Homo sapiens: one gene and its partners. The protein of the gene in region 3 interacts with the protein of the main gene of each other region in a biochemical or structural test. Each region holds a gene or a part of one and is shown on either strand. Other genes may lie near its edges.

What was found.
Region 1: of the proteins of RAB8A (region 3) and LRRK2, one has a biochemical effect on the other in vitro, tested with the Homo sapiens proteins (2 studies listed by IntAct).
Region 2: the proteins of RAB8A (region 3) and OCRL form a complex in vitro, tested with the Homo sapiens proteins (2 studies listed by BioGRID and IntAct, with this or other methods).
Region 4: the proteins of RAB8A (region 3) and SYTL4 form a complex in vitro, tested with the Homo sapiens proteins (2 studies listed by BioGRID).

Annotation. Positions count from the first base shown.
Region 1 is NC_000012.12:40,304,239-40,312,466, forward strand, and holds part of LRRK2 (leucine-rich repeat serine/threonine-protein kinase 2), read left to right. Parts: intron 1-1,546; coding exon 1,547-1,728; intron 1,729-4,228; coding exon 4,229-4,458; intron 4,459-4,867; coding exon 4,868-4,995; intron 4,996-6,192; coding exon 6,193-6,411; intron 6,412-8,228. UniProt on the Homo sapiens protein: Serine/threonine-protein kinase which phosphorylates a broad range of proteins involved in multiple processes such as neuronal plasticity, innate immunity, autophagy, and vesicle trafficking.
Region 2 is NC_000023.11:129,570,566-129,578,793, reverse strand, and holds part of OCRL (inositol polyphosphate 5-phosphatase OCRL), read right to left. Parts: intron 3,655-8,228; coding exon 3,544-3,654; intron 2,898-3,543; coding exon 2,732-2,897; intron 2,478-2,731; coding exon 2,242-2,477; intron 1-2,241. UniProt on the Homo sapiens protein: Catalyzes the hydrolysis of the 5-position phosphate of phosphatidylinositol 4,5-bisphosphate (PtdIns(4,5)P2) and phosphatidylinositol-3,4,5-bisphosphate (PtdIns(3,4,5)P3), with the greatest catalytic activity towards PtdIns(4,5)P2.
Region 3 is NC_000019.10:16,114,889-16,121,888, reverse strand, and holds part of RAB8A (ras-related protein Rab-8A), read right to left. Parts: intron 3,664-7,000; coding exon 3,603-3,663; intron 140-3,602; coding exon 79-139; intron 51-78; exon of another isoform or gene 1-50. UniProt on the Homo sapiens protein: The small GTPases Rab are key regulators of intracellular membrane trafficking, from the formation of transport vesicles to their fusion with membranes.
Region 4 is NC_000023.11:100,720,894-100,729,121, reverse strand, and holds part of SYTL4 (synaptotagmin-like protein 4), read left to right. Parts: intron 1-8,228. UniProt on the Homo sapiens protein: Modulates exocytosis of dense-core granules and secretion of hormones in the pancreas and the pituitary. Interacts with vesicles containing negatively charged phospholipids in a Ca(2+)-independent manner.

The DNA of each region.
Region 1 (8,228 bases), on a different chromosome or scaffold from region 3:
AGAAGCTTCCTGTTAACTATAAATTCCTGTCAACTATAAATCCAGATTTCCATTAAATTTAAAAATAAGAACAGCTACTAATGATGTGTCACTTAATTTAATTTCCATTCTCACACCGACAATTTAAAAAAATCTACTTTTAAAAATAAGGTAGTAGCCTTAATACTTCCACTAAACAATAAAACAATATGCTATACTTATCAGAACCTTTTAATCTGAAAGCTAAACAGCTAGATATAAATTTGTCTACCCAACATTTGTACAAAGTAAAAATTATTAGAATATTCATTTCAAATTATGTGTGATGTTATCATATAACATATTATAGATTAACTCAAATTATTCTTAACTGTTACTTAACTATGACAAAACAACTTAGAACGCTTTGCTAATACACAAGATAGTATAAGGATAAAAATTCTTTATAGTACTAGCTCATAAAGAGTGTTCTATGGAATAGTAGTGGATGTCATTTAATAACTATAAATTCAAAATAAGCATTGTAAATATCAATACCATTCAATTTTTTTTTGTTTTTTAAACAAGTTGTAAGCCTACCCTATGGTAAATGGATATGGTAACACAGCATAATTTCCTCAAAAAATTACTTTTGTGATATACTTTTAAAGGATTATATGAATATATACATAATTATAGATGAATGTGATGCTGTGTGTCATTGTATCACCAAATCTCTGTCCAATCTGTTAACAGACTCTTAAATAAACCATTTTTCTCAAGTTGTTACTGGCCTGTATACTGTATTACTTGTTTTTCAGCTTTCCTTGGTACATTCTTAAATTTCTGCATTCCGCCACCATGCTATCACCCTAATGGATCAACCTTTTTTGTTTTGCTCCATTCTCTCTGTTGTAAATCTGAAATTGATAATTTGTTTGTCTCAGAAAATATTATTTTTCAAGTTCTAGCGTATTGCCTACAAAAACCAAAAGAATTAAGTGTCTGACACTGTGAGGTTCAGCAAAACTGTGCATATATTTTGCTACCTGATTTTTTGCCAGCAAATGAGTGTTTTCTATTATAAATATAGTATATATTGCTTAAAAATTTGGAACAGAAAAGAAATTACTCCAATTAGGATGCCACCTAAAGTATAAGCATGTAGCTGTACTTTGAGAACACTAAATTGCATGCAGGTTTGTAGTGACTAGGTCTTCTTGCCTTTACTGAAGGAGCAGAATGAAGTCACAGATAATGGATAACCAAATCCATTTTGTGGTAAGAACTTCCTTACTTTCAATGTCTTGAAGAGATGAAGTATGTTACCAAAGGAGATTGGGTTTTTTAATATTACAGATGAGTGACATAGATTGTTTGGGAGTAAGTTTTTATATGTAAGTTTTTATGTTTTTAAACACATACTGACAACTTATGACAAACCTTTGGAAAGTTTTAAAACTCTGTTGAAAGGTTGTGCAAGCTGCTGATGGAATCTGTGAGCCTTTCTTGTTTCTTATCACGTTTTTTGGCAGAGCACATTTCTTCCTTCCCACCAACAGGTTTTGCCCTTTTTTTTCCCATTAAGATTCCTCCTGAGATTGGCTGTCTTGAAAATCTGACATCTCTGGATGTCAGTTACAACTTGGAACTAAGATCCTTTCCCAATGAAATGGGGAAATTAAGCAAAATATGGGATCTTCCTTTGGATGAACTGCATCTTAACTTTGATTTTAAACATATAGGATGTAAAGCCAAAGACATCATAAGGTTAGATAATTTTTTTCTATTTGGTTTTACTAAATTTATTTCAGATTTTCTACTCTCTGTGACTTTGATGGACATATATTGTTACTATTTAGGGAAAAATAAATAGTAATATTTGGCATTAATATGCTGTGTGTCATTTGCCTTTCATTTAATGAATGTGTTTCTGTGGTGCCACTGTAGAGATTTCTCATTCTTCTTAGCCAGACTAATGTTGAGAGCGGCTTCTCCTCCTTCTGTTTCTTTTCAGTGGAGTAGACTCTAAAAGAAAATAAGTATTGCTATTTGGTCTCTGGTTACCAATTACACAATCTAAAGAAATACAGCACAGTATAATAACTTCTCACACTGTATTTCATATAGCAACTAGTTAACATATGCCTCTTACATCTTAAAGCATTATAGCTACTGACATCATGTGAAATTACTAACTTCTATTTTGCCCATTAGGATGAGTAATCTACTCACCTTGATCAGTTTTGAAAGCACCAAAACTTCTCAAGTATCACTGTTTCTGGTCTTTACACTTTAAGCACTTTAAATATCTTTGGTAATGGATTTTATCCTCCTTTTTGTTCCCTTTCAGCACATCGGTCTTATTACTTTCTCATAAAATCCTTTGCTCCCTTTTCCACAGTTACTGTATTAACGTTGCAGACCTCAGCTCTGTCATCACCTCTCAACTTGACTGTAATATCCACCAAGGCAGAGACCATGGCTGTGTTCACTCACTATTCAAATCTTGGCACCCAACACAGTGCCTGGCATACAATTAATAGTTGTTTAATTACCAGTGATTTATACTTACTCATTCTCTTCTGCCTAAAATCTCTTAAATTTATATTTAACTTCATCTGTTTTTATGAGGAAGGATTTTGTTTTCTGAACTCCTGAGCTTGATTTCATTTTAAAGGAGTTTGTTATCTTTTGTGCTAATTGTGGCTACCCTTCATCCTACCCAATTATTTTTCTCTCTTGAAACTGGAAAAGATGGTCATATAAAAATTGGTTCAGTTCTTACTAAACATTTAGTAGAACTAGCTTTCAGTGTATTATACTGTATTATCTAACTAAATATTTTTAATATTTAATATTTAATTTAATATATAACTAAATATTTTTAAACATGTTTAACATTTTCAGAAAAGACAGAAAGACCTAGAGCAGATTAGAAATTGTAGGCATCATTTGCTTTTTGAAGAAAGACATTTTTTCAAATAGTGGTGCATTCTTAAGAAATAAATCAAGAAAGGTAATGTTGCTTTTTGGTCATATCATCAGGAATGTTGGTCAGATTCTTATTAGTTACAGGAATGAATTGATCACTACTCTGATGTAAAATTCACTTATGATTTAGTCTTTTTCTCTAATTTGAAACTGTGGCAACATTTTAACATATTTCAAAATATATCTTTCTCTATCCATTATATTTTTGATAACACTTTGACTCTACTATTAGTTTAAAGGTGGTTTTTTAGCTACCTAAACACTTCTATTTCATTCAGGTTTTACATTAAGATCATTAGGAATGAAAGCTAACATCTGCTGATAGTATAATAGTTTATATTTATTTATGATGTTATGTGATCTCACTATCCATATATACTATTATATGCATATGTGATATACATGAATATATAGCTATACATCATATATACCATATATGAATATATACACACACATATATAATGTAACTAATATGACCCTATTATCAAGCTTTAACAGTATACATATATCTCTACCTTGTTTCTATGTCATATGGACTTTGTGAAATTTTGAACTTTATAATTTATAGGGTTTTTCTTTTCTTTTCTTTTCTTTTTTTTTTTTTTTTTGAGACTGAGTTTCACTCTTGTCACCCAGGCTGGAGTGCAGTGGCCTGATCTTGGCTCACTGCAACCTCTGCCTCTTGGCTTCAGGCGATTCTCCTGCCTCAACCTCCCAAGTAGCTGGAATTACAGGCACCTGCCACTGTTCCCGGCTACTTTTTGGATTTTTAATAGAGACGGGGTTTCACTATATTGGCCAGGCTGGTCTCAAACTCCTGACCTCATGATCCGCCCACCTCGGCCTCCCAAAATGCAGGGATTACAGGTGCGAGCCACCGCACCTGGCGTATAATTTGTAGGGTTTTTCATACTATTTAAAGACATTAGAATATGTATACATGTATGTATATGTGTGTATATATAGAGGTATATATATATTGCATATCGTATTCTAATTAGTATTGCAAACATATTTTGGCCTTTTGATTATTTCTGGTGATAGTGTAACATGTTTTCTTTGGTGATTTTACCAAACATTATCAACTACCCTAAAATCTCTAGCAAAATATATGCATTAACAGTACTCTGAAAGACATGTACATTATTAGTTATATGAGATATGCACTCTTCTGGATACTATATTTTAGAATAGTGTGACATGTAAAAGAACTCACCTAAATCTCAAGTATACTTTTAAGCAGTTTATTATTTTATTTTTATCTTTCAAATACTAGGTTTCTTCAACAGCGATTAAAAAAGGCTGTGCCTTATAACCGAATGAAACTTATGATTGTGGGAAATACTGGGAGTGGTAAAACCACCTTATTGCAGCAATTAATGAAAACCAAGAAATCAGATCTTGGAATGCAAAGTGCCACAGTTGGCATAGATGTGAAAGACTGGCCTATCCAAATAAGAGACAAAAGAAAGAGAGATCTCGTCCTAAATGTGTGGGATTTTGCAGGTATTTCTTTCTATAGAATTTTAAAATTCACTTTTACCATTTGTTTGGAACAGGGATTCAAAAACTGAGCTTTCTGTTCTAATATCCAGAAACCTGGTAGACTGTATGGAATTATTCCAAAGCCCTTCATTTCTCCTAATTTTACCCTTGCCTCCAGAATGGAGAAGAACATGGAGGGATATGTTAGGAACAATTTGGTGCTAGGTACTTTGATCGGTTGCTGACAAATATGCTAAAAGTGGTCAATCCTAGTAAAAACCCAGAATAGTTCTCTAAACATGGTCTGTTGTTTTTCTCTTATTAGTATGCTAAATAATAAATAGTATTATTCTCCCAGATTTTTTTTTAAAAAAGGATTCTTGCCTGTCGTTTGAAAGATTAAAAAAATTTGTCTCTAATCTTTATTTAGGTCGTGAGGAATTCTATAGTACTCATCCCCATTTTATGACGCAGCGAGCATTGTACCTTGCTGTCTATGACCTCAGCAAGGGACAGGCTGAAGTTGATGCCATGAAGCCTTGGCTCTTCAATATAAAGGTGATTTGTTCTGATCATTTGAAAATAGAAAATAATTCATGTGTCTGTGTGCGTGTGTGTGTGTGTGTGTAAGTTAATTTATTTTGGGCAAACAATTGCTTCAGTCTCTTTAAATACTTTCTTAAAAGAAGCACTAAAATTTTGAATTGGGAAACTTTCCGAGTAATGAAGTCATAACATGAAAATTGTATGTTCCATGTTGGTGAATGTTATTGGTAACCTGAAACTCTTTTATGCTGTAAAACTTGAAAATATATATGTTCAACTGTTTTTTAATTATATTATTTCTTAAATGAAATCTAAATTTTTCTAATTTAAAATAAGCTATATTAAAGAAAAGCAATCTATATATATATATCTCATCAACTTTGTACTCAGGGGCCATTTAGTGTGAAATTCTTCAGATTGTATCCTTTAAGTGGTCCCAGATTATTATGCTGTTACATCTGGAATCTCCCTTTTGTTGCTTTTCTATCTTTTCCTTTGTTGTCTTGTTGTCAGCTATTCCTTCAAACACTATGGCTTTTTAGAATGGAGACTAAACTGCTGCTTGCATGATGCTGCAATGAACTCTTCTGTGCATAAAGTCCTTAAAAAGCTTGTGTCAGGACATTTAACCATGTAATTGGCTGCATACATGCTTGTTTTGTAATTTGGGTATTTTTTAATGTTTCTTTTATTAACTTTTTTACAGCTAGCCAACGTGAGCAAATAGTACAGTGGCAGTCATATTTGCTTGAGTGGCTTTTATTCTTTCATTGTAGACTCCAAATTGGTTGACTTTAAAACGAATTTAGAAGATTAAATTCACAGATAAGGAAGAGAAAATATAAACTATATGACGTTAATTTGATATAATTTGTGGGTTTATGAAATGCTTATTTTATTTAGGAGTGAATAACTCATCTTAAGGCATGAAGATGGGAAAGGAAAACTATACCACTACCGTTATATATGCCACCTAAAAGGGTGAAGAATTGGGTTAAGAAAGGCCAAAAATGACTTTTTAAAATGTCGTAAGGTTACATTTTTTTCTTAGGTTTAAGGAAAAAAGGACAGTTGTTCTTTTCTTCTTCTGAAGTCTGCTAGTTTCTCTTTTCCATTCAAGTGAATGTCACGGAAAGCAAATATCAACAGGAATGTGAGCAGGCCCAGTTTGAAAGCAAACACAAGAGGGTTTTGTGTCTTTCCCTCCAGGCTCGCGCTTCTTCTTCCCCTGTGATTCTCGTTGGCACACATTTGGATGTTTCTGATGAGAAGCAACGCAAAGCCTGCATGAGTAAAATCACCAAGGAACTCCTGAATAAGCGAGGGTTCCCTGCCATACGAGATTACCACTTTGTGAATGCCACCGAGGAATCTGATGCTTTGGCAAAACTTCGGAAAACCATCATAAACGAGAGCCTTAATTTCAAGGTAACATGGTAGGCTGGTAGAGAAATGTAATTTATTGATTCTCAACTGCCTAGAAATGTCAGAAATTTTGAGAAGTGAGCAACTCACTTAAAATTGTGGGTTTTCTTTCCTTGTTGCTGTTAGCATTATTAAAGTCCTTTCCATTTTAAAATTATTTATGCCAGACTTCATTTCTAATTCATAGAAATGGGAACAAAAAATAATTAGAGGAACCTGAGAGAAACTAAGAGACCGTTTCTGGGATACTGAGAAAATGTTTCTGAGAGAGAATCTGAGAAAATGTTTTTGATGCCTTTTCTGATTCAACTTCTTATAGTGGTGATTCAATCACAAGGGTAAAGGTGAATACTGAGGTCTTGGGATCATCTTTCTTCTATTATTCTTTAACTGTTATTTTTCCATTTCCTCTTTTCTTTTGGAATTCCTGTTTTATGGACATCTTGATCTTTTGTGCCACTCATTCATGAATTTTGTCACTGTGATTCCCATTCCAATTTTTTTCCCTCCGTATTGTGAGGCAGCTGTTTTATTTAGTCATGAAGACCACTAACTTGGTTTTCAGCAGTGTCTCACTAATTACTTAGTTCATACAAAATGGGCTTTTTATTTTAGGAATTATGTTTTAAATGTTTAAAGTTATCTTCTCGTAAGCCAAATTTTTATAAAATGTAAATAAATCAGTTATCAGAGAGAACACTTTTTTTTTTAAATACTTGGCAGAAAAAAGAAATCTTCACTGGGTACTACAGGGAGTGTGGTGTAAACTGTACTGAAAAATACCCTTGATAGTTCCATATGACAAACATAATGATGAATTTCACTTAGTCTGTCTTGGCTTAGCTCAATAGCACTAATGATCAAGATACTGGCTGATAAATAGAGTCCTATTTGGCCTGGGCAGTCCCAGCATAATTATGTAATAGTGTCCCACTATATTCTCAAAAGCATTCCAATTTGGATGATAAATTATATAGTCACCTTGGTTATAACTCCATGCTGGCCAGTTAGCTTAGTTCTGTTCCATTTATATAGATTATGTGTGCTTCACTCCAAAACCTAATGAGCCATTTGTAAAAGTGATGGCTTTTGCGGTGCCCAGGGAGAGAATTTGTATGTTTGTATCCTTCAACACACATTTATTACAGTTATTAAAAGGTTTTATTGATGATAGATGGTAATGTCATGTAAAAATGACATATTATTTATTTGTAGACTTTCCTATTCTCTTGTTGGACATGTAATTAGAAACTAATATGACTTAAAGAAAAACAAATACACAAAATTTATTCATCCAATTAATCTCTTAATCCAGGTGTTTTTTTTTTCTGAGACTATACCCATACTTCAATAACTTTGTTGTTACTGAGAATATTTTGAGTTTCCCTTTTTGTCATTGTTGTCAGAGAATGTATCATATCTTTAAAAAGACTTGTTGGAGGATGAGTTTGTTTTGAAAAGGCCTGAATTTAGTTGATGCAAAGTCACAGATAAGATGGTTCATTAAGCTGTATTAATACTGCTTTTGTCTAATAGATATCATTACCAATAAGTCAGACTAGTTTTTCTTTTGGCACTTATAAATCACCTTTGAAGACAACTTTTTACAAGGAAATAAAACAAATGCTTTGAGAAATACCAGTATTATTGAAAGAAAAGTATATATTGCTAATGGATGCAGCATTCTGGCATAATGGTTTGAAAACTCATTTGATTGCTTTGTAGAAGAATGACTCTTTCAGATGACCCAGGGCCTGTGAGCCTGCCAGAACTTGAAAATTCTTTCTTCCCTGAGGTGCTTCAACCTGAATTCAAAGAGC
Region 2 (8,228 bases), on a different chromosome or scaffold from region 3:
ACCCTCAATCACTTGTGCACAAAAAGAAGGAAAAAGGCTTCCCAAAGAGCCATTCATTCCTCTAATGATTTTGGTTCCTTTCTGTTCATGGGCAAACATGGTAAAATTACCTGATAGTATACTTTACATAAAATAAAAACTTTATGAGGGTTGAGCCTCTTCTGGCCAATCCCAGAATATGAAAAACTGCAAAGTTTTTCATATTAATGGCTTTGCAGTTTTTCATATTAATGGCAAAGATATTCTAATATCTTCACTGACTCTGACTAAAAATAAGGGTAGGTTCCTGTTTACATGAAGGTGGAAGGAGAGAGTATAAATGGGATAAGTTTAAAAAAAAAAAAAACAAGAAGGAAACAACCAGAAAAATTTAGGAAATGGTTGACCCTTGACTGGACATTTGTACTGGACTCTTAAAAAAGTCAATGTCACTAAAGAAAGTAGGAACTGTACTACTCCAATAGAGACTTCAGAGACCTCACCAAATACTATATGAACCCAGATTGGATTTTGGTTTAAAAAAAGGTATAACAGAAATTCTTGGGACAACTGAAGAAATCTGAATATGGACCGAATGTTAAATGATACTATGGATTACTGTTAGTTTTCTTATACATAATAATGGTATTGTGCTTAAGTGTGCCCTTTTTGTTAAGAGATGCAGGCTGAAGTGTTCAGTGGTGAAGTGACATATTACCACTAAATTTTACATGACACAGCAAAAAACATCTGTGTGTATATATGTACAGAAGGCATGTGGGGGTGTGTTGTACTGTTCTTTCCATTTTTCTGCACATTTGACATTTTTCATAATAAAAAGCTGAAACAAAGAAAGCTGGGAAATAATGTCTGAGATGAAGGAAAGGGGGTAGGAGAAATAAGAAAAACAACTTCATCATCCAAAATGTATTCTAAAAGGTGAAATACTAAAATCTAAAAGACAGAAATATAATGTTAGGAGAAAAACAATTATCATGAAAAACAGCAGAACGGTAGGATATGAATTTCTGAAGAAAATGGTTCTCTCTCAAACAGAGGTAATATACTCAGTCATGAGGGCTCTGGGGAAATAAGTATAATTCCAAGAAAGAATGCCGGGGCTGGACTCAGTGTTTTAATCTGCTATCTGAGTCACAGCTAAAACAATTCCATGGCAACAGAACAGATCGGACTCAGACAAGCCAGCAGCCTGCCTGCTGGTCTAGACCTCCCTGCTAGATACAATCACTCGCTCTGGCTAGGCCTAAAGGATCCATGTGAATACTAATGGTAAGGATAACGTATGCTGTCACCTCACCTAATTTTCTTTGGTAAAAAAACCAAGAATATACTTTTGTAGCCCAAAGAGATTCTGCATACAATCCAACAATATTTTCATTTAGAAGGAAATTTCTTAATACAATGAACTTTATTACTAAATCAACTTATGTTACTGAAGATAGTAAGTACTTCCTTCATAAAAACATTAATATTATAGCTTGGCTTGAGGGAGAGGTGGGAAAATCAACCTCCTTTTCTTTCTTAAGCACATCACATTAAGTAAGTATCAAATTTCAATGTACATTATAAGCATCTGGAATGCGGATAAAATGCAGATCTGTAGGCTCCATATCCTGAGATTCTGATTCCATTGCCAGAAGTGAGGGTACCTGTAATAAGCACCCCCAGGGATTCTGATTCAGGTACTCCAGGGTTCCAGGATAGTTCTATGCTTCCATAAATAGCAAAGTTTTACTCTGATTAGATATAATGTGGTATTAGTGAGGAATACTAAACTGGGAGCCAGGAAATCTGGGTGCTAGATTTGTTACTAACTGATGGTATTTGACTCTGGGCACGTCAATGTCTCTGTGCCTCAGTTTTCTCATATGCTCAAATGAGGATAATTCTGCCTGCCCCACTTAGCATACCTCACGTACATGCTAATTTATACAAAAGTGACTTGAGAGTATGAAGAGCTTAACAAACAAGCATTATATCTTTGAGAGGGGAGTCTTTAATCTTATTTGGTGAGCTTAGTATTATGTATTGTACTCACAACAAGAGCCAACTGCAGATTAGTCCCCCCTCTTTCCCCTTAGGCTTAATCTAATCAAAACAGTGCTAAAGTAACATTCTTCTTTATCATTTGACATCCCCCGTGGCCAAAAGAAGACAGAAAGCACAAAGATAATGAGGACGTCACTTAAGTATTGTGAAAATTAAATGTAAAAGAGGTTTATGTCTTGGGACAGTTCTTACCAAGTCTATGAGTTTGGTAACAGGAACTTCTCGGATTGGTCTTTTCATACGGCACAGAGCCTCTAAGGATGTGCCAAAACAACTTGGGAGGTAATTTCCACTGATAGTCAAGAAGTAATCTTTGCCTCGATCCAGGTGAAGGACGAGAATATCTTCAATCTTATCTTCTCCCGAGTTCAGGATGGTTACAGAGTCTTTGCTGACATACACATCAAGAGAAATGTCCACTGTCTCATCTGAAATGTAAGAGATGATACATGGTAATAGGAAAACCTCCAGTGGGAAAGCAAAAAAGAGTATAAGAACCAACAGAAAAGTGTCCTCTAAAAAAATCATTAAGCAATGAGGGGGAAGAGACAGGACACACACCAGAGGTATCACCAATATGACAGTAAAGGTAAGAGACATGTGGTTAGAAAACAGAAAGTTAAACCAAGGGGATGGGAGTCATGACATCACCAGCAGAGACAATGGTAAAGGGAAAACTCACTTGGCTCCAAGTAGCCCTCAAAAGGTTCAGCCCGAAGCCATGGCTTGCAGTACTGGCTGTCATTAAGTTTAGGGATGAAAGAAAAATGGCAGGGAACCTGTCCATTGTTGCTGATCTGGAACTTCTCCTTTTGTAGTTGCCGAAACTTCACATTTTCAAACACAAACTGGGGAATAACAGACAGACACAAACATGCATCACTAGTAGGGGAAGTAAGTCAGTTGGATTATTCCATAGAGGATATGAGGAGTAAGGTAATTGTTAAGCAGGTGTGCAAATGCCATAGACATTCACCAACTGAACCAACTTCACAACATCCACTTGCATGTATTATTATACTCACACCAGCAGAGAAGGAGTTAGGTGGCTCTTGCTACTTCTCCAGGCTACTCTGATCATTCCTAGGATCCTAAGAGGGTAACCCAACCTTGGTTCAGAGTATTCATCCTGTGACCAAGTCCTGGTTTCTGAGATATAAATTAACTAGCAACTCTGAAATATTAAATAAGAGCATCTAACAGCGGAGGGCTTACTATGTGCCGGGTGCTGTTCTGAGAGCTTTGCATGTATTAACTCATGTAATCCTTACAACTACCCCTTAATCCAGGAAAGGAAACTGCGGCTCTGAGCGGGTAAGATACTTGCCTGAGGTCATACATCTACTAAACAGCCGTGCTACAACTGGAATGGAGGCAGTCTGACTCCAGCGACATGGGCTTAACCACGTTGCTATGTAGCCTTTTCTAAGTAGCAGTTTCTTCTGTGCTAACCACAGTGAGCAGTAGACAGGGAGATCATGTATTTTTGCTCACCTCCCTCCTGCTGAGTTCTAAGGAAGGAAGGAAGTCATTTTCCATTCTGTCCATGATGCGTACACTATCTTCAAAGACTTTCCGGTACCTTCGTTCATCCACAACCTTCACCTGAAAGAAAATGTATCCTCTTTTCAGTCTTATATCCTTCTAGCTCATCTCCCTTGGAGATTATCTAACAATTTAAAACTGGTCATTACAGTAACTATTTAAAATAAACTGTGGTGCAAACAACATCCTCAAACACTCTCTATATCTTGCTTCATCCACAGCTTGCACCTGAAAGAAAACAGATCCTTGCTTTAGTTTTATGTGTTCTCAACTTTTATACCTCCAAGAGTCTCTAACAATTTTTAAGGTCACTAAAGCAAACATAAATTGAACAAAGCATTATAGAAGCACACGCTTTAAGGTAAAGGTAAGATTAATTGGCTAACGTCCTGTAAAAGTTAAACCCCTACGTTAAGAAGCTTGGTAATAATAAATATTTGGGAAGAATATTTTCTTGCTTCATTGTTAAGTTATTTGGTAGTGGAAAAAATGTGATAATTGTGGTAAAAATGATTGCTTGCACTGTACAAAATGACAGTGTCAAAACACAGCAATTACTGTTTCTAACAATCATAACTTGGTGAGGTGGCAGCAAATATTATTAAAAAGCTTTTAACTCTATTAGATTCTATGTACAATACCAAGAAGTATAATATCACTGCTCAGATTACATAATAGCAGAGATATATTAATAAATGGAACCTACAGCCATTTTAGAAAATGGCTGAAACAAAATGTCCTAGACTAGAGTAAAACCATGACAACGTATAAACACATCTCCACTGATAAAAAAATTTTCCACCTGACACAGCACTTTCAGCTTCCTGATATAGCTGTGTTTTTTTAAATATTAAAACTTCATACAAACCAATGCCAAAATTAACATAACTAACAGATTTTAACTTGAGATATCGGTTTCTTTTTTAGACTAGGAAATTTCACAAAAATTCATGTCAAAAAAAATTGATACATGCAGCAAAGGTTCTAAAAAGATGTGGAAACAGATGCTGGTGAGGCTGTGGAGAAGTAGGAACGCTTTTACACTGTTGGTAGGAGTGTAAATTAGTTCAACCATTGTGCAAGACAGTGTGGCGATTCCTCAAGGATCTAGAACCAGAAATACCATTTGACCCAGCAATCCCATTACTGGGTATATACCCAAAAGAATATAAATCATTCTACTATAAAGACACATGCACACATATGTTTACTGCAGCACTACTTACAATAGCAAAGACATGGAACCAACCCAAATGCCCATTAATAATAAGACTTGATAAAGAAAATGTGGTAAATATACACCATGGAATACTATACAGCCATAAAAAGGAATGAGATCAGGCTGGGCACAGTGGCTCACACCTGTAATCCTAGCACTGCGGGAGGCCGAGGCAGGAGGATCACTAGAGGTCAGGAGTTCGAAACCACCCCAGCCAACACGGTGAAACTCTGTCTCTACTAAAAGTACAAAAAAAAAATTAGCCAGGCATGGTGGTGGGTGCCTGTAATCCCAGTCACTTGGGAGGCTGAGGCAGGAGAATCCCTTGAGCCCGGGAGGCGGAGGTTGAAGTGAGCCAAGATTGCACCACTGCACTCCAGCCTGGGCAACAGAGCAAGACTCCACCTCAAAAAATAAAAAAAGTCATGTCCTTTGCAGGGACATGGATGAAGCTGGAAGCCATCATCCTTAGCAAACTAACACAGGAACAGAAAACCAAGCACCGCATATTCTCACTTATAGGTGGGAGTTGAAGAATGAGAACACATGGACACAGGGAGGGGAACAACACACACCAGGCCACTCGGGGTAGTGGGGCGAGGGGAAGGAGAGCATTAAGGTTAAATAGCTAATGCACGTGGGGCTTAAAACCTAGATGATGGGTTGATAGGTGCAGCAAACCAACATGGCACACATACCTATGTAACAAGCCTATACGTTCTGCACTTGTATCCCACAACTTGAAGTGAAATAAAAATTTTTTAAAATGTTGAAAATAAGAACATCAAAGCTGAGTCAAGTATCTCAGACTGGGGAAGTTTTTCACATATTTGAACTGTAACTCTTAGAGAACCGAGGATCAAACAATCACTTTACCATCACCAGGGTCCATAGTATAGCATTAGTTTAAGATGAATTTTATACTTTTACAAAACTTTGCAACTTTTAATTTCCAAAAGTATTTTGCACATGTCTTTTTATTTTCACAACCTGGAAGGCTACCAAAGCAAGGAATATTTTTGTTCCGATAGTTGAGAACATTAAGATACAAAACAATCAACAAACTTGCTCACTGCTACAGTGAATACCAAAGGTGACATCTGGACTAGTTTAAGACTCTTTCCAATATACTAGATATGTGACAGAATCAACTTGAGTATGTCTTAAAAGCACAGCTGCCTGGGTCTACTAATCACAGCCTCTAGGGGTGAGGACACATGCATCCACACTTTTTTTAAAGCTCTCTAAGCAATTCTTACATCCACTGAAGTCTGAGAACCAATGCAACAGATCACAGTACCAAGTGCAGGGTTGGAACCCTATCCTAGCTCTATCTCAGCCAGCCCACAGAAAGTCTTCTGAAATTAATTGGCCACGGTGCACTTGGCTCCTTTGTTAACAGTCATTGGTGCCAATGGTGGTGAAAATATAGTGTGGTTTTTAAAGCCTCTAATCATAGCATGCCCAAGAATCCAAAACATGGGGTGATTACTCAATAAAATCAAACTTTTTCTCAGCGGGTTATCATGATCACAGCACTTAATGGCAAATCAAAGATAATGAGGAGGGGGGGAACCCCAAAGAATTTCACAACCTGACACATCCATTTTAGTAAAGGAAATTACTGACAAAATTAGGAATTTGAAAAAAAGTACAATGAGCTAGGTCTTTATGTAATAAGATGGGAGGTTCTCCAAGACACACTGCTGAGTTAAAAAAAAAAATCAAGTTGCAGACCAACACATACATATAAGACCGTTTATGATATAGAGACACACACAAATCAGTATTTTGTCTATGAGTGAACAAAAAAGCATATACAAAGGTCTAGAACTGCACTGTCCAGTACAATAGTGACTAGCCACATAGGGAATTTGAATTTAAATTACTTTAAATTAAATTAAATTAGAAGTTCAGTTCTCAGTTGCACTAGCCACACTTCAAGTACTCAATAGCCCCCTGCTGCTAGAAGCCACTGGACTGGACAGCACAGATACAGGACATTTCCATCATCACAGAAAGCTCTATTGGACAGCACTGGTCTAGAAAGATATAAACTCCTAAGGGTAGTGGCCTGGCTGGGGAATGGGGGTTTAGGCAAAGTTGGGAGTAGGAGACAGAACAGGGATTGAAGAACTTCTGCCTTATCTGTCAATTCTGCTTAAATTTCCTTTTAATTTTTTTAAAAGCACTTGTCATTGCTGTATAATTTAAAAATCATTAAAAACTCAAAAGGCATATCTTTATTAAAGATATACATAAATACACAGGAAGCCTGAAAAAAAATGTAAATATCCCACTAGAAGCTCTGCATTAATGTGTATGGAGTATTAAAAACATCCCAAGGTTGGCTGCGAGCGGTGGCTCATGCCTGTAATCTCAGCACTTTGGGAGGCTGAGGCGGGTGGACCACAAGGTCAGGAGATCGAGATCATCCTGGCTAACATGGTGAAACCCCGTCTCTACTAAAAATACAAAAAATTAGCTGGGCGGGAGGCTGAGGCAAGAGAATGGCGTGAACCCAGGAGGCGGAGCTTGCAGTGAGCCAAGATCGTGCCACTGCACTCCAACCTGGGTGACAGAGCGAGACTCTGTCTCAAAAAAAAAAAAAAAAAAACCAAAAAACAAAAAACAAAAACAAACAAAAAAATCTGAAGGTTTTGAAAAGAAATGTAAACAAAAAAGCCAGGCATACCTGATCTAACCAAAGAGGTTAGTGTTTGAGGAAAGATACCCTCTCAAAATGGATTAAGAGAATTCAAATGAAGAAAAAGGGGCAGCCTGCAAGTACAAACTAGAAATTAGATGGGCTAAAAGAAGTTATCTAAAGGTATATTTCATCAAGTTCTATAGAATTATAGAGGTATTGTGGGGTAGTAGAAAGAGCACAGAGTTGGGAGTTAAGCCAACTTAAGATTGGAATCTCAGCTCTCCTCCTAGTTGAATGCTCTTAAATAAGTTATTTCAACTTGCTGTTCTCCATCTGCTCATCTGTTAAATGGGAAATACAGTTGTCCCTTGAGATCTGTGGGGGATTGATTCTGGCATGGCCTGTGTATAATCAAATTCACGCATACTCAAGTCCCACAGTTGGCCCTCCTTATACGTGGGTTTCACATCCTGTGAATACTGTATTTTCCATCTGCATTTGGTTGAAAATATCTGGATATAAGTGGATCTGTGTAGTTCAAACCCATGTTGTTGAAGGATCAACTGTATTTAACTCAAAGCGTTGTTGTGAGGAGTAAATGAGATGTGTGCAAATTGCCTCACATAGTCCCTGCCACACAGCCACTAGCTGCTATCTGAGGAACAGTTACTATTATTAATGATTATTATTTTAAAATTTCAAAATGGACAAAAGTAAAGTCATGATTGTCTTGATAAAATTTAAAATCTATTCTAAGACCAATAA
Region 3 (7,000 bases):
CTTCGGTAACCAATGCACAGTGACGCTCCCATGTTGACTTAAAAAGCAGATAAAAACAACCAAACAAAAAGTCCCTACCATTGCACCCCTGTAGTAGGCCGTTGTGATCGTCCGAAACCGTTCCTGACCGGCTGTGTCCCTAAACATGAAGAGAAGGGATATTAGCAACATTAAAGGAAAATAACTGTCCTCAGTAGGAGACAAGGAGCATCTACCCGGGATGCCTGGCTTTCTCACCGTTCAGCCACTGTGATACCTTCTTCTGCTAAGGCAGCACCTTCTAATCTCCCTATTATTACAGGGAAGGACACTGTGGCCTGGAGGGGTCATTTGATGTGGCAGAGCCATGATGGGATCCCTGACCCATGCGCCTTCTCCTCTTCTGCACCTTTGCTTCCAGGGAATTCTCCCTGGAGTTTCTGGTTCACAGAAGAGCCAGTCATGTGGCTCAGGAACATAGCTCTTGCTGTTGAGGGTGGCTGGGACTCAGGAAAAGCTTTCAGGCCTGCCATCTTGGTTTGAATGATGGGGAAAGTCCCTCCTCATCTGCATGACAAGGAACACAGGGCCTATTGCCCGGGAGGTGATGCCTGGGTAAGACATACCCATGCCCAGTCCAGCTCCTGGCTTGAAGGGTACTTAGTGTTTGGTTTAAAGGTAGGTAACCTAACTGGCCGGGCGCAGTGGCTCACATCTGTAATCCTAGCACTTTGGGAGGCCGAGGCAGGTGGACCACCTGAGGTCAGGAGGTTGAGACCAGCCTGGCCAACTTGGTGAAACCCCGTCCCTACAAAAAATACAAAAATTAGCCAGGCATGGTGGCACGTGCCTGTAATCCCAGCTACCTGGGAGGCTGAGGCAGGAGAACTGCTGGAACCCAGGAGGTGGAGGCTGCAGTGAGCCGAGATTGCACCACTGTACTCCAGCCTGGGTGACAGAGCAAGACTCCGTCTCAAAAAAAAAAAAGGTAACCTAACTGGCCTGGTGCAGTGGCTTACATCTGTAATCCCAGCACTTTAAGAGGCCGAGGCGGGTGGATCACCTGAGGCCAGGAGTTCGAGACCGGCCTGACCAACACAATGAAACCTCATCTCTACTAAAAATACAAAAATTAGGCGGGCATGATGGCGTGGATCTGTAGTCCCAGCTACTTAGGAGGCCGAGACACAACAATCGCTTGAACCTGGGAGGTGGAGGTTGCAGTGACCTGAGATCGTGCCGCTATATTCCAGCATGGGTGACAGAGTAAGACTCTGTCTCAGGAAAAAAAAAAAAAAAAGCCAGGCGTGTTGGCTCACTCCCGTAATCTCAGCACTTTGGGAGGCTGAGGCCAGCAGATCACCTGAGGTCAGGAGTTTGAGATCAGCCTGACCAACATGGTGAAACCCTGTCTACTAAAAATACAAAAGTTAGCCAGGCATGGTGGCAGGTGCCTGTAATCCCAGCTACTCGGGAAGCTGAAGCACGAGAATTGCTTGAACCAAGGAAGTGGAGGTTGCAGTGAGCTGAGATCATGCCACTGCACTCCAGCCTGGGTGACAGAGTGAGACTTTGTCAAAAAAAAAAAAAAAAAAATTAAAGGTGACCTAACTGATTGGTGACAGAGCCAGGGCAAGACTCAGGTCTTTTGTCTCCAAGCCCAGGGTTCCTCCCACGGCCCTGCTGGGACCCGGAGGGCTCTATACGTCTGGATTGTGCAGAAACACCTTGCTTGGAGCTAAGCTGACTTTCTGACACCAGCAGCAGGAGACATGAGTGGTTAAAAACAGTCATTTTTGCCAGGTGCGGTGGCTCACGCCTGTAATTCCAGCACTTTGGGAGGCCGAGGCGGGTGGATCACCTGAATTCAGGGGTTCGAAGCCAACCTGGCCAACATGGCGAAACCCCGTCTCTACTAAAAATACAAAATTAGCCGAGCGTGGTGGCAGGCACCTGTAATCCCAGCTACTTGGGAGGCCGAGGCAGAAGAATTGCCTGAACCCAGGAGGCGGAGGTTGCAGTGAGCCAAAATCGTGCCACTGCACTCCAGCCTGGGCAACAAGAGCAAAACTCTGTCTCAAAAAAACAAAGAAACAAAAAAAAAAACCAGTCATTTTTTTTTCAACTACAGTCCTTAGAAGAGTTTTGAGTCACTAACCTCACCACGATTGCTAAGAGCAGAAGCAGGAAGGCAGGAGGAAAGTGAAACTTCTGCTTGCTGATGCAGTGTCACTTTGGACTTGGGAACAAAGGGTGACATGGCACCAACGTGCTGGAAGTGGAGAAACTTCCATGGCTTGGAACTTACAAGGCAGCCAGAGCTTGACTTACTACCAATGTCTGCAGGATGAACTGCAAGTTAAACCTACCCGACTCCCAAAGTCAGATTAAGAGGTGAACAGTAGGGCCGGGCGTGGTGGCTCACGCCTATAATCCCAGCACTTTGGGAGGCCGAGGTGGGTGGGTCACCTGAGGTCGGGAGTTGGAGACCAGCCTGACCAACATGGAGAAACCCCGTCTCTACTAAAAATACAAAATTAGTTGGGCGTGGTGGTGCATGCCTGTAATACCAGCTACTTGGGAGGCTGAGGCAGGAGAATCACTTGAACCCGGGGGGCAGAGGTTGCGGTGAGACAAGATCGCGCCATTGCACTCCAGCCTAGGCGACAAGAGCGAAACTCCGTCTCAAAAAAAGAAGAAAAAAAAAGAAGAGGTGAATAGCACCTGGAGTCAAGGGTAGCTGTGGGGCTCCCTGAAACTGGCAAGTGGGGGTGACCGGTCAAACTTTGAGACTTGAGGGAGGATGACTTCGTGGCCCATCTCCTGGCACACTGCTCCCACTCAAAGGCACTTGCCTGGTTTGGGTGACAGGGAAATTGCACCATGCTCTTAAATGTGACTTCTCTTTGTTTTGCTCAGGGCCAGTGACTCTGTGCGAGTGGCATGTGTGCAGGGCAGGACCCCACTATACCCGCCACCTGAACTCAGTCTCAGCAAACTAGAATCAGGCCAGCGATGGCGACTTGGAGTCTCCCCACTTCCCTAATTGTATGTGCATGGGAAGTCACCCTTAGTTCTCAGGAATGGAAACAGGTCTCAACATGGGGCCCGGCCCTCCGCTTAATTTCGGTTTGGGGTTTCGGTCTGTACGCTAGGAAGGGAGGCCAGGCCTGCCCCAGGGGAGAAAAGAGGAAGTGAAGTTGGACCTTTATGCTTCTGAGTGGGTTGAGAGGCTCAAAAGGAAACTCTCGGCTGGGGCATCTCACAGTCCCTGCAGGCGTCACCAGCACCTGGCACTGAGAGGGCTCTCTTCCCGTTCAACAGAAGCAGCCCACTCTGAAGGCCAGACCCAGATGGTGCCCACTGTGGAACACTGAGCTAGCCAGGGCTGGGCAGCTTTGTGCCTATGATGCTGTAGGCCCTGGTGCCCTGCAGCCAGCAGAGGACAGCTCTCTGGGCTGGGTATAAACCTCCAGGAGCTTCTGGAGAAAGCCCCATGTGCCAGGACTGGGCACCAAGAAATGGAGGCCAAGGTCACAGGGACGGTGGAGGGAGAAGGCCAAGGGCTTCTGGCTTGAAGCCATTGCCAGGTGGAGAGAATGACAGAGAACAATGACTCTTACCATATCTGCAGTTTAATTCTCTTGCCATCGAGCTCTATGGTCCTAATTTTAAAGTCAATTCCTGAAAGAAAAAAGAAAAAAGGCACGTCACTGTCAGCCCATTTCCCAAGTTGTGTCTGAGCTGGGCGCCACCAACCTGTGCAGGTGACAGCTGTTGTGGCTTACGGAGACCCTGCCTGGTGCTGGGCATGCAGGATGTCGGAATATCCAGATCTGGAAACACTTGGAGATATTTTCCCTCTCCAAGAGCTGATGGGAGCAGTGCAGAGCAAACCCAGGGGGCGCGGGTGGCAAAGCCCTGCTCTTGTCCCTTGCTGCCAGCTGAACCCGCCTCCCCACCCCAGGCAGTTGTACGGAGTGGGTCTCAACAGAGCCCTCTGCAGGCCTGAGTCCCTTGCTCCCCAACACCCTGCAGCTGACCAACCCCCAGGCACACAGGGCCTTAGGCCCCACCATGCGTCAATGCACATGGTCACGTTCTCTCCTGCCCCCAGCTTTTGTACATGCTATTCATTTTCTGCGGGTGGTCTGTGTCCCACTGGCCCGTCAGCTAGGCACACTTCTCCTCCTTTAAGGCCCCCTTGAAGATCACCTCCTAACAAGCCTTCCTGACCCCATCTTCCTTGTCTCTCACCTCCCGCTTTCATCCCCTTTCCCCACGGTGACCTCGCAGCCACCTTGATGTTCCCCAGGCTCCCACTGTTCACCCGCAGTCCCCTCCCCAGCCTTCAAAAATATAACCCTAACCATGTTACACAGCTAACCTCTGCTCCAAACTTACTTTCTTTTTTTTTTTTTGAGATGGAGTCTCGCTCTGTCGCCCAGGCTGGAGTGCAGTGGCACAATCTTGGCTCACTGCAGCCTCTGTCTCCCAGGTTCAAGTGATTCTCCTGCCTCAGCCTCCCGAGTAGCTGGGACCACAGGTGCCTGCCACAATGCCCGGCCAATTTTTGAGTTTTTAGTAGAGATGGGGTTTCACCGTGTTGGCCAGGCTGGTCTCAAACTCCTGACCTCAAATGATCTGCCTGCCTCAGCCTCCCAAAGTGCTGGGATTATAGGCATCAGCCACCGCACCCGGCCCTCTGCTCCAAACTTTCTAGTATGTCCACCAACAGATGAATGGATGAACAAAATGTGGTCCAACCATACAACAGAATATGACCCAGTCATAAAAAGGAACGGAGTACTCATCCATGCTATACAATGTGGATGAACCTTGAAGACAGGATGCTGAGAGAAGCCAGACACTAAAGGTCACTTAGTGTGAGATTCCATTAACAGACATGTCCAGCATAGGCTCATTCATAGAAACAGAAAGCTGATTAGCAGTTGTCTGGGGCTGGGGGGGCACATGGGGAAACTGGAAGGGTTGGTATCCTTTTTTTTTTTTTTTTTGAGATGGAGTTTCTCTGTCACCAGGCTGGAGTGCAGTGGTGCGATCTTGGCTAGCCTGGAGTGCAGTGGTGCGATCTTGGCTAGCCTGGAGTGCAGTGGTGCAATCTTGGCTCACTGCAACCTCTGCCTCCCGGGTTCAAGTGATTCTCCTGCCACAGCCTCCCAAGTAGCTGGGACTGCCGGCACGCGCCACCATGCCCAGCTAATTTTTCTATTTTTAGTAGAGACAGGGTTTCACCATGTTGGCCAGGCTGTTCTCGATCTCTTGACCTCGTGATCTGCCCACCTCAGCCTCCCAAAGTACTGGGATTACAGGCGTGAGCCACTGTGCCACCGTGCGTGCCTGGCCTTGGGTTGGTGTCTTTTTGGCATAATAAAAATGTTCCCAAATTGCCTGTGGTGATGGTTGTGGAACTCTGTGAATGTACCCAAAGCCACTGAATTGTACACTGCAAATGGGTGAACTGTATGCGAATTCTATCTCATAAAGCTATTTTTTTTTAAAGCCTCTTTCAGTGGCTTCCCTGCCCCACTTCCCTCGAATAAAGTGGAAACAGCTGCTCATGTGTGTCAAGGTCCTGCCTAACCTGGTCACCTCTCAGCACTCTGGCTCATGACCTGCTCTCTCTGGCCACACCATCCACACAGCGATTTCCTCAACATTCCAAGCATGCTCCTGACTCGGGGCTTTGATGTTTGCTCTTCCCTGCCCTGGAAAGTTCTTTCTTCTGTAGCTACCTGGCTATCCCTTTGTTCAGGTTCCCATTCAAGTTCCCTCCTCAGGGGAACCTTTCTGACCATCCTCATCAGTTCTCCCTTTACCTATTTATTAACATAACTGACATACATGTATGTATCTGCTGCATGGACCTGGGCATAATGCTTGCAGATCATAATGGCCCATGTAGATGAGAAACAGCCAGACCCAGCCTTTGCCACCAGGAGTTTGTTCAAGTGCCTGCTGGGGAAGACTTGAGGCCCAGGCCTGGCTGGGCCTCTCTGAACCCAGGGTGGGGATGCTAATTCCATCCATCCAGCCCCAGCACTGGACTTTCGCCCTCTCAAACGTAAGCTCCCTGGGGCAGGGAACTGACAAGTCTCATCCACTGCTATTACCTCCAGTGACTGAACACACAGGGGTTGAATACACATTTGCTAGAAGCTGGTACCCCAGTCCTGCACGCACCTTGACTCACCTGTGTCCTTTCTGCAGCCCTCTTGCCAAAATGGCTGCCTGGCCCACAGAAGACACTGGCAAAATATGGCTGGATCAAAGTATTAAAGCGCAACAGGGTCTACGCGGTGTTGAGCGGTTCACAAAGCACTTTCTCAAATGCCAACCCTTTCACTGGAGGAATCAATGGGCCCCTGAGGAGGCAGTGGCGCCGAGCCAGGCTGGTGAGAACCCATTCCAGGGAGCTACAGGGCCAAGTTCACACCACAAATGATCTATGGGGCTTCTGAGAATAGGCTTTGATGAAATGTAACTTTTGGCAAAATGTTAAGGATTGAGTGGCAGAAAATGAATAGCCACTCAATCCTTGTCTATAAAGAAAACCCAGAGGTACACTCAGCCAATATAGAATTGCTTCTTTTTTTTTTTGGAGACAGAGTTTTGCTCTGTTGCCCAGGCTGGAGTGCACTGGCACAATCTTGGCTCACTGCAACCTCTGCCTCCTGGATTCAAGCGATTCTCCTGCCTCAGCCTCCTGAGTAGCTGGGAATACAGGCAAGCGCCACCACGTATGGCTAATTTATGGAATCACCTTTAAGCATTAAGGTGATACTGCTTCAGGACTAGACAGCCCAGTGTGCCTGGGCTTCCTAAAACATTCCCCATTTCCTGTCACACGTGTACAGGGACACAAAAAATCGAGGAGCACTGTTAGGTTGGCCAAGCTCCACAGCAGCACTCCGCCCTACACTCCTCTGGGTTTTATTAACATGCCAAATTTAATTAGGAAGTGTAAACTTTATGAGGCCTAAGAATTATGAGGTCTGAC
Region 4 (8,228 bases), on a different chromosome or scaffold from region 3:
CTGATTTTTGCTTTGAGATTGCATTCCTGATGCCAACTTTGACCTAGTTGGAAGTACTTCCTCTCTCTTACTTTTTTTTTTTTTTGAGGCAGAGTTTCGCTGTGTCGCCCAGGCTAGAGTACAGTGGCGCGATCTTGGCTCACTGCAAGCTCTGCCTCCTGGGTTCATGCCATTCTCCTGCCTCAGCCTCCCGAGTAGCTGGAACTACAGGCGCCCGCCACCATGCCCGGCTAGCTTTTTGTGTTTTTAGTAGAGACGGGATTTCACCGTGTTAGCCAGGATGGTCTCGATCTTCTGACCTCGTGATCTGCCCTCCTCGGCCTCCCAAAGTGCTGGGATTACAGGCGTGAGCCACCGCTCCTGGCCTCTCTATTTTTTAAAAGTATGAGTCTCTGGGTGGAAATCTCTAAAGTTTAAAAGTGGAAATGTAAAAATGTTGTGCTTCTTGTTGGTAGGAAGGGGGACTGCACTGGGAGGAAGGGGTGTGGATTGTCAGATGTCTTGAGGCTTTTCAGGCTTCTCGCAAGATCAATAAGAGGCTGGAGAAAGTTACTGTGCAATGGGGAAGTGAACAGCTCAAAAGAATAACGGATGGCACAAATTAGGCTTCTGGTTTCAAGTTACCCATAGCCTTTTAGGTATGAGGTGGTTATTGGATTATGGAACTTTATGGAAAAGCCGTAGCTGAGTGCTATTTGTGTTGTACTTAACTAGTTTTCTACCAGGATGACTGTGCAGTCTGGAGAAACCACTGTGTAACATAAAAGAAAAAAGTGCTATTCTGTTTAAAAGTGTTTTGAAATGTTCAGAAAGGAAGAGGCCAGAATCTCTTAGAAGACAGACTTGGAAGGAGTTGGGCCCTTCAAAAGGTGGTAAATATGTGATTCTCATCATTTAATATATGTTAACTTATTTGAAACTCAAATTTGTACAAAAAGCTGACCAGCTTCTTTTTCTACTAAATTTGTCTCCCCAGCCTTTGAACATTGCAGTGACCTGGGGTTCAGTCCCTGGACTTTTCTCCATCTAAAATCTTCACAGAGGCTCTCATCCAGCTGCATGGCTTTGAAGAACATCTGTCTAGACTGTTGTCACTCCCAAATTTATGTTTGTTACCCAGGCCTTTCTTCTAAGCTGCAGCCTCATATATCCAATGACCTATTTGACATCTCTGCTTGCCTATCAGATAGACCTCTCAAATGTAACGTGGCCAAAACGGCACTCCCGATTGCCCTTGTATTCCCACCCTCTTCCCTCAGCACTCCCTGTCTCAGTAAAATGTCACCATCATCCATTCAGTTGCTCAAACCAAGAACCTAAGATCACCCTTGATTCTTCTTTTTCTATCACTGCTCTCCACCCAATTTAATTCATGAGGGAGTCCTGCTGACCTGATCTTCAGACTGTATCATGTGTTCTGCCACACGTCTCCATCTCCTCTGCCTGTCACCCTAGTCCAAGCCACCACACGTCTGCCACAAACATTCTTGCATAATGCTCAAGGATATATATATACACAAGTATTTTTGTGGGATAGCTTTCTAATAGGAGAATTGTTAGGTCAAAGGACATATACATTAAACAATTTAAATAGGCATCACCAGAGTGACATCTAAGAGGGTTTACCCTTTCACCATTGCGAGTGGTTTTCCTCCTGCCCTTGCTGAGGATGGATGACGCTTTTAATTTTTTCCAATCTGATAGGTGAAAAATAGTATCTAACTGATTTAACTTGGCATTTCTCTGATCACTAGTGTGGCTGAGCATCTTTTCATTTGTGCTAGCTATTTGTATTTTTCCAAGACTTGCTCCTTTATATCCTTTGCACATTTATCTTTTGGGTTATATATTTGATTTGTTTGTAAGAACACTATATTTATTAGTTATATTTACCCATTGCCTATTATATAGTGCAAGTTTTTTTCTCTCTAGTCTGTCATATGTCATAACTTTGTTCATGATGTGTACCCCTCTCGTAATCAGATAAAACCCACTATAAAACATTTAAAAAACACGTTCATTAGATTTGGCAATTAGGAGGCCAATGACAACATCAGTGCAGCAGGAGGAGAGAAGGCAGATCGTAGAGGGTTGGGCAGTGAGGACTGAGAAGGACTGATAAAAAATATGGTAGATACACATGGACATGGAGAGTGGGATGATAGACAATGGAGACTCAGAAGGGTGAGGGGTGGGAGAAGGGTAGATGATGAGAAATTTCTTAATGGGTACAATGTATGTTATTCAGGTTATAGATACCCTAAAGTCTCTGACTTAACCACTGCATATGTAACAAAATTGCATGTGTACCCCATAAATTTATATAATTAAAAACATGTAGTATATACATTGAAGAAGCTTGGCTATGATGGGAAGGAGAGAGTGTTCCTTATAGACAGTAAGGCACAGGGGATAAAAAGGCTGTTTTATTTAATTTTGTTTTACTTTAAATATAAGAGATAGATGAGCCCATTTATGTGCAGATGGCATACAGCTTGATGATGCAAGGTCCCCGAGAAAGTCAGAGGGTGGGAGTGCCAGAGTGAAAGAGGAGAAAAGACTAGCCTTAGAGAAAAAGTGGTGGCTCTTCCATTGAAACAAGAGGATTCACCAATCCTCTTGGTAAAAACTATGGAGAAGGAAGTACCTGTGGAGGGACAGGATTTTGAGAGAGCCCCTCCGCCCCCAACAAGAGAGTGAAAGGTTCACCAGAGAGTAAAGAAGGCAAGAATGGTGAAGGGTTGGAATAGCATTTGAGAGAGACGAAAAGAGGAGTTCTTTAGGGGCATATCATCCAGGTTATGTATGTGTATTTCAAAATATCATGCTGTACACCATAAATAGACACAATTTTTGTCAAGTATACCTCCATAAAACTGGAAAAAAGTTTTAAAATGGCTTGGGTAACTTGAATTTGTCTCTGCCTCAAGTCGCAGAACCCTGTATCCATTCTGTCTGGCAGCACTCATCAGACCAGGAACAGAGTGTGGACAATCTAGTATGGGGAATTTTTTCCGGGTGGCCGTGACAGAAATAGGGAGAGGGCTGGAGATTGGATGGCCCTGGCAGAAGAATAGTTGAAATGATGGACCACTGTGGCTTTCATATTCATATCTGTGACTATCTAAACCTAACTTGACCTTGAGTAATTTTTAAGAAGTAGAAAATTTCCATGGCATCTACACTGCTTCTTGTTTGTAGCTCTATCGATTCAGGCATCAGAATACCATTAGTATCAGTGTCTTTAAACTCATCAGAAAGCGTGATTTGATTTACTGAGGGCCTATGTTGTGCCATGCTCTGTGTTGATTTACTGAGGATTTACGTTGCACCAACTGAGAGCCTACAGTCAGGATCCTACAATGTAGATTTATCCATCTATCCATCCATCAACCCAGCTAGATGCTTGAGGTATGGCTGAGAAGAAGGTAGACAATGGCCATTTTTCTCCTGGAACTTATTTCGGCAGGGGAAGTGTATATTAAATATTGTATCACATAATTTTTTAATTACAATTGTGATAAGTTCTGTGAAGTTCAGTTTTCTTAGAAATCAGATTGTCACATTGCTTTTTAACAGGCCTTACTAATTTACATTTGCCAACAAAATATGAGAATATCTCTTAAATCCTTTTTAAAAACTGAAAATTGTCTTTCTGAAATTTTGCTGAATTAATAAGCAAACATAAAAAAATCTTTATTGCCAGTAAGAGTGAAACTTTTTCTTTTTGATGTGTATTGGCCATGTGATTTTTCCCCTTTAAGAATTATCTATTCACGCTCTCTGTCTATTGGATACTTACCTCTTCTTGTTTTTAATAGATCTCTCATTCCATGTTTGAAACCATTAGCTACACTTCTCTCCTTTCTCTCTTAGCCCTGGTGACCTTAAAATATTTTCCCCTAGTCTCTACGGCCATTCCCTTTTGATCTCCTGTGAAATTTTTTTCTTACCTAGAAGTGTTGCTGTGCTTAGGGATGGGACTACATTTTTATTACTTGACTCAATAAAAGGTAACATATAAATCTTCTGTTCCTGCTTATCCCACTCTCCAGAGGTAACAATGTTAAGATTGTATTTCTTTCTAGACATTTTTCCATTCATCCATGATCCAATCTGTCTAAAATGTAAACAAATAAAAATGGAATCATAATATATATGATTTGCAATTTTTTTAATTTAATATGCTTTCAGTGTCAGTATATATAGAACTACAGTACCTTCTTCTTTTTTTTTTTTTCTTTTTTCTTTTTATTGATCATTCTTGGGTGTTTCTCGCAGAGGGGGATTTGGCAGGGTCACAGGACAATAGTGGAGGGAAGGTCAGCAGATAAACAAGTGAACAGAGGCCTCTGGTTTTCCTAGGCCAGAGGACCCTGCGGCCTTCCGCAGTGTTTGTGTCCCTGGGTACTTGAGATTAGGGAGTGGTGATGACTCTTAACGAGCATGCTGCCTTCAAGCATCTGTTTAACAAAGCACCTCTTGCACCACCCTTAATCCATTCAACCCTGAGTGGACACAGCACATGTTTCAGAGAGCACAGGGTTGGGGGCAAGGTCACAGATCAACAGGATCCCAAGGAAGAAGAATTTTTCTTAGTACAGCACAAAATGAAAAGTCTCCCATGTCTACCTCTTTCTACACAGACATGGCAACCATCCGATTTCTCAATCTTTTCCCCACCTTTCCCCCCTTTCTATTCCACAAAACCGCCATTGTCATCATGGCCCGTTCTCAATGAGCTGTTGGGTACACCTCCCAGACGGGGTGGTGGCCGGGCAGAGGGGCTCCTCACTTCCCAGTAGGGGCGGCCGGGCAGAGGCGCCCCTCACCTCCCGGATGGGGCGGCTGGCCGGGCGGGGCGCTGACCCCCCCCACCTCCCTCCTGGACGGGGCGGCTGGCCGGGCGGGGGAGCTGATGACCCCCCCACCTCCCTCCCGGACGGGGCGGCTGGCCGTGTGGGGGGCTGACCCCCCCCACCTCCCTCCCGGACGGGGCGGCTGGCCGGGCAGAGGGGCTCCTCACTTCCCAGCAGGGGCGGCCGGGCAGAGGCGCCCCTCACCTCCCGGACGGGGCGGCTGGCTGGGCGGGGGGCTGACCCCCCCCACCTCCCTCCCGGACGGGGCGGCTGGCCGGGCGGGGGGCTGACCCCCCCACCTCCCTCCCTGACGGGGCGGCTGGCCTGGCGGGGGCTGACCCCCCACCTCCCTCCCGGACAGGGTGGCTGGCCTGGCGGGGGCTGACCCCCACCTCCCTCCCGGACGGGGTGGCTGCCAGGCGGAGACGCTCCTCACTTCCCAGACGGGGTGGCTGCCGGGCGGAGGGACTCCTCACTTCTCAGACGGTGCGGCTGCCGGGCGGAGGGGCTCCTCACTTCTCAGACGGGGCGGCCGGGCAGAGACGCTCCTCACATCCCAGACGGGGCGGCAGGGCAGAGGCGCTCCCCACATCTCAGACGATGGGCGGCCGGGCAGAGACGCTCCTCACTGCCTAGATGGGATGGCGGCCGGGATGAGGCGCTCCTCACTTCCTAGATGGGATGGCGGCCAGGCAGAGACACTCCTCACTTCCCAGATGGGGTGGCGGCCGGGCAGAGGCTGCAATCTCGGCACTTTGGGAGGCCAAGGGAGGCGGCTGGGAGGTGGAGGTTGTAGTGAGCCGAGATCACGCTACTGCACTCCAGCCTGGGCACTATTGAGCACTGAGTGAACGACACTCCGTCTGCAATCCCAGCACCTCGGGAAGCCAAGGCTGGCGGATCACTCGTGGTTAGGAGCTGGAGACCAGCCCGGCCAACACAGCGAAATCCCATCTCCACCAAAAAAATACGAAAACCAGTCAGGCGTGGCGGCGCGCGCCTGCGATCGCAGGCACTCGGCAGGCTGAGGCAGGAGAATCAGGCAGGGAGGTTGCAGTGAGCCGAGATGGCAGCAGTACAGTCCAGCTTCACCTCTGCATCAGAGGGAGACCGTACCTTCTTCTTTTTAACAAAGGCACAATATTCCCTAATATGTGTGTACAATAACTAGTCAGTTTCCTTTGATGGATGTTTATGTTCTTTAATTTTTTTTTTTTTGCTGTTTCAAATATTGAGCATCCTCAGAATATATATTTGTGAATTTACTTGAATATCAGCAGAATAAGTTTCTCAAAATGAAATGGCTATGTTAAAAATATGGTCAGTGGTACTAAAGATCCAGAGAAATCTAGGAAGACCAAGAACTGTCTATTGGATTTAGGAAGTTCTTGGTGACCTTAGAGCAATTTCAGAGAACTGTGAGGCAGAAAGCTAAACTATGGTGGGTTGAGAAATGATTGGAGAGATGAGGAAGTGAAGGCAGTGATTATGTACAATTCCTTAGAGAAATCTGTCTGGCTTTGAAGAGCAGAGAAAGGGTAGTAGCAAGGAAGGAGTTGAGATTGAGGACCTGTTATTTATTTATTTATTTATTTATTTAGGAAGGACTTGAGTTCCTTTAAAGGCTGGTGGGAAGGAGGGACTAATTAATAGAGCAAAATCCTTGGAAGGCAAAGTCCTTATGCCAGATGGGAGGGGATCCAGATTGAGGTAGAGGATTATCCTCAATAGGCATAGATGAAAGTAGGTTCATAGATTTGGCGGCAGGAACTTGTCTGATGGTATTTCTATTTCTCTATGATATAATAGTTAAGGCCAACCTCTTAGAGCAGGGGTTAAGATGGGACAAGGTTTGAGTTAGATATTTGTGGTATTTGAAGAAGGTTTGAAATAGTTATTGTGGAGAACAGGAGAGCAGCCTAGGGAAGCATAGTTGCAGTGCCAGGCAGGGTTAAGATGAGCTTGGTGACCAAGAATTCATATGGATAATAATCTACCAGAGTGTGATTTTTTTTTCTCCAGTAGATCTCAGGAGTCCTTGTGCATGCATAAAGTATAACAGTTGGGCTTAGAAGAGCTATGGTTTTTTAAATCAGATATTTGCAGTGAAATTATGCATTATTGAGGATATTGACAAGAGTGCAGTTGAAACAATAGAATTGGCTGGGTGCGGTGGCTCACACCAGTAATCCCAGCACTTTGGGAGGCTGAGGCGGGTGGATCACCTGAGGTTAGGAGCTCGAGACCAGTCTGGCCAACATGGTGAAACCCCATCTCTACTAAAAATACAAAAATTAGCCGGGCATGGTGGCGCACACCTGTAATCCCAGCTACTTGGGAGGCTGAGGCAGGAGAATCGCTTGAATCCAGGAGGCAGTGGTTGCAGTGAGCCAAGATCATGCCACTGCACTCCAGCCAGAGCAATAGAGAAAAAGTCTCAGAAAAAAAAAAGAGAAAGAAACAATAAAATTTAAATGTTATTGGGAAGGAAGTAAAGATGGGAAGGAGCTGAGGAGGTGAAAGCAGAAGGGTCTATGGAAGACTGCCCCCATCCAAGAAATCTGAGAACAGGAATGGGGCTAGTTGGGGGGCTCATTGGCTGAATAGGCTAGAAGCACAGCAGGTTGTGGTCAGAGAGGGGGTGTTGAATCAGTGATATCAAAGGTGGAGAAGTCCTAGATGATAAGCTCTTGGGTGTGGCTGAATATGATATATGGTATTCTTGATGCCAGCTCATTCATTCAACAAATATTTATTTTGTGCATATTATGATCCAGGCAGTGCTCTAGGCACCAAAGGTACAGAAATGAACAAAACAAAGTCCCTTCTGTCATACAGCTTACAATCTAGTGGGGGAGATTATTTTTATAAACTAAAAGAACATCCTTATTGATGTGCTGATTCCTGTATGTGTAGCTTTATTTGTAACTAATGATAATACCAGGATCAAATATTTACATATATGGGGGCTAAGAAGGTCCATCTAGGCATTTTGAGTATCTTGCTTTATCTCAAGTTATACTTACTGAATTATGAAAACTCATACCTCTTTTCCCCTTAGAACTTTTTAAGGTATTTTTACTTACTATGTCAGTATTGAAAATAAACAAATATATACAAATCTAATTTGAATATTTCATTGGTTTTAATTTTTTATACTGTATTTTTTAAAAATATTAGGATATTGCTTCAAGCTGTAGACCAGATGTTGATAATGCATGTACTAATCTTGCTCTAGGGATTTGATGTAATGTGTAAAGTAATTATGGTTAAGCAGTTTAGGAGGGAAAGAGGGCTTGTAATAAGTTAATATTTTATGTTTATTTTTATATTATTCTCCAATTTATTTTATTATTTATACCTACCTTT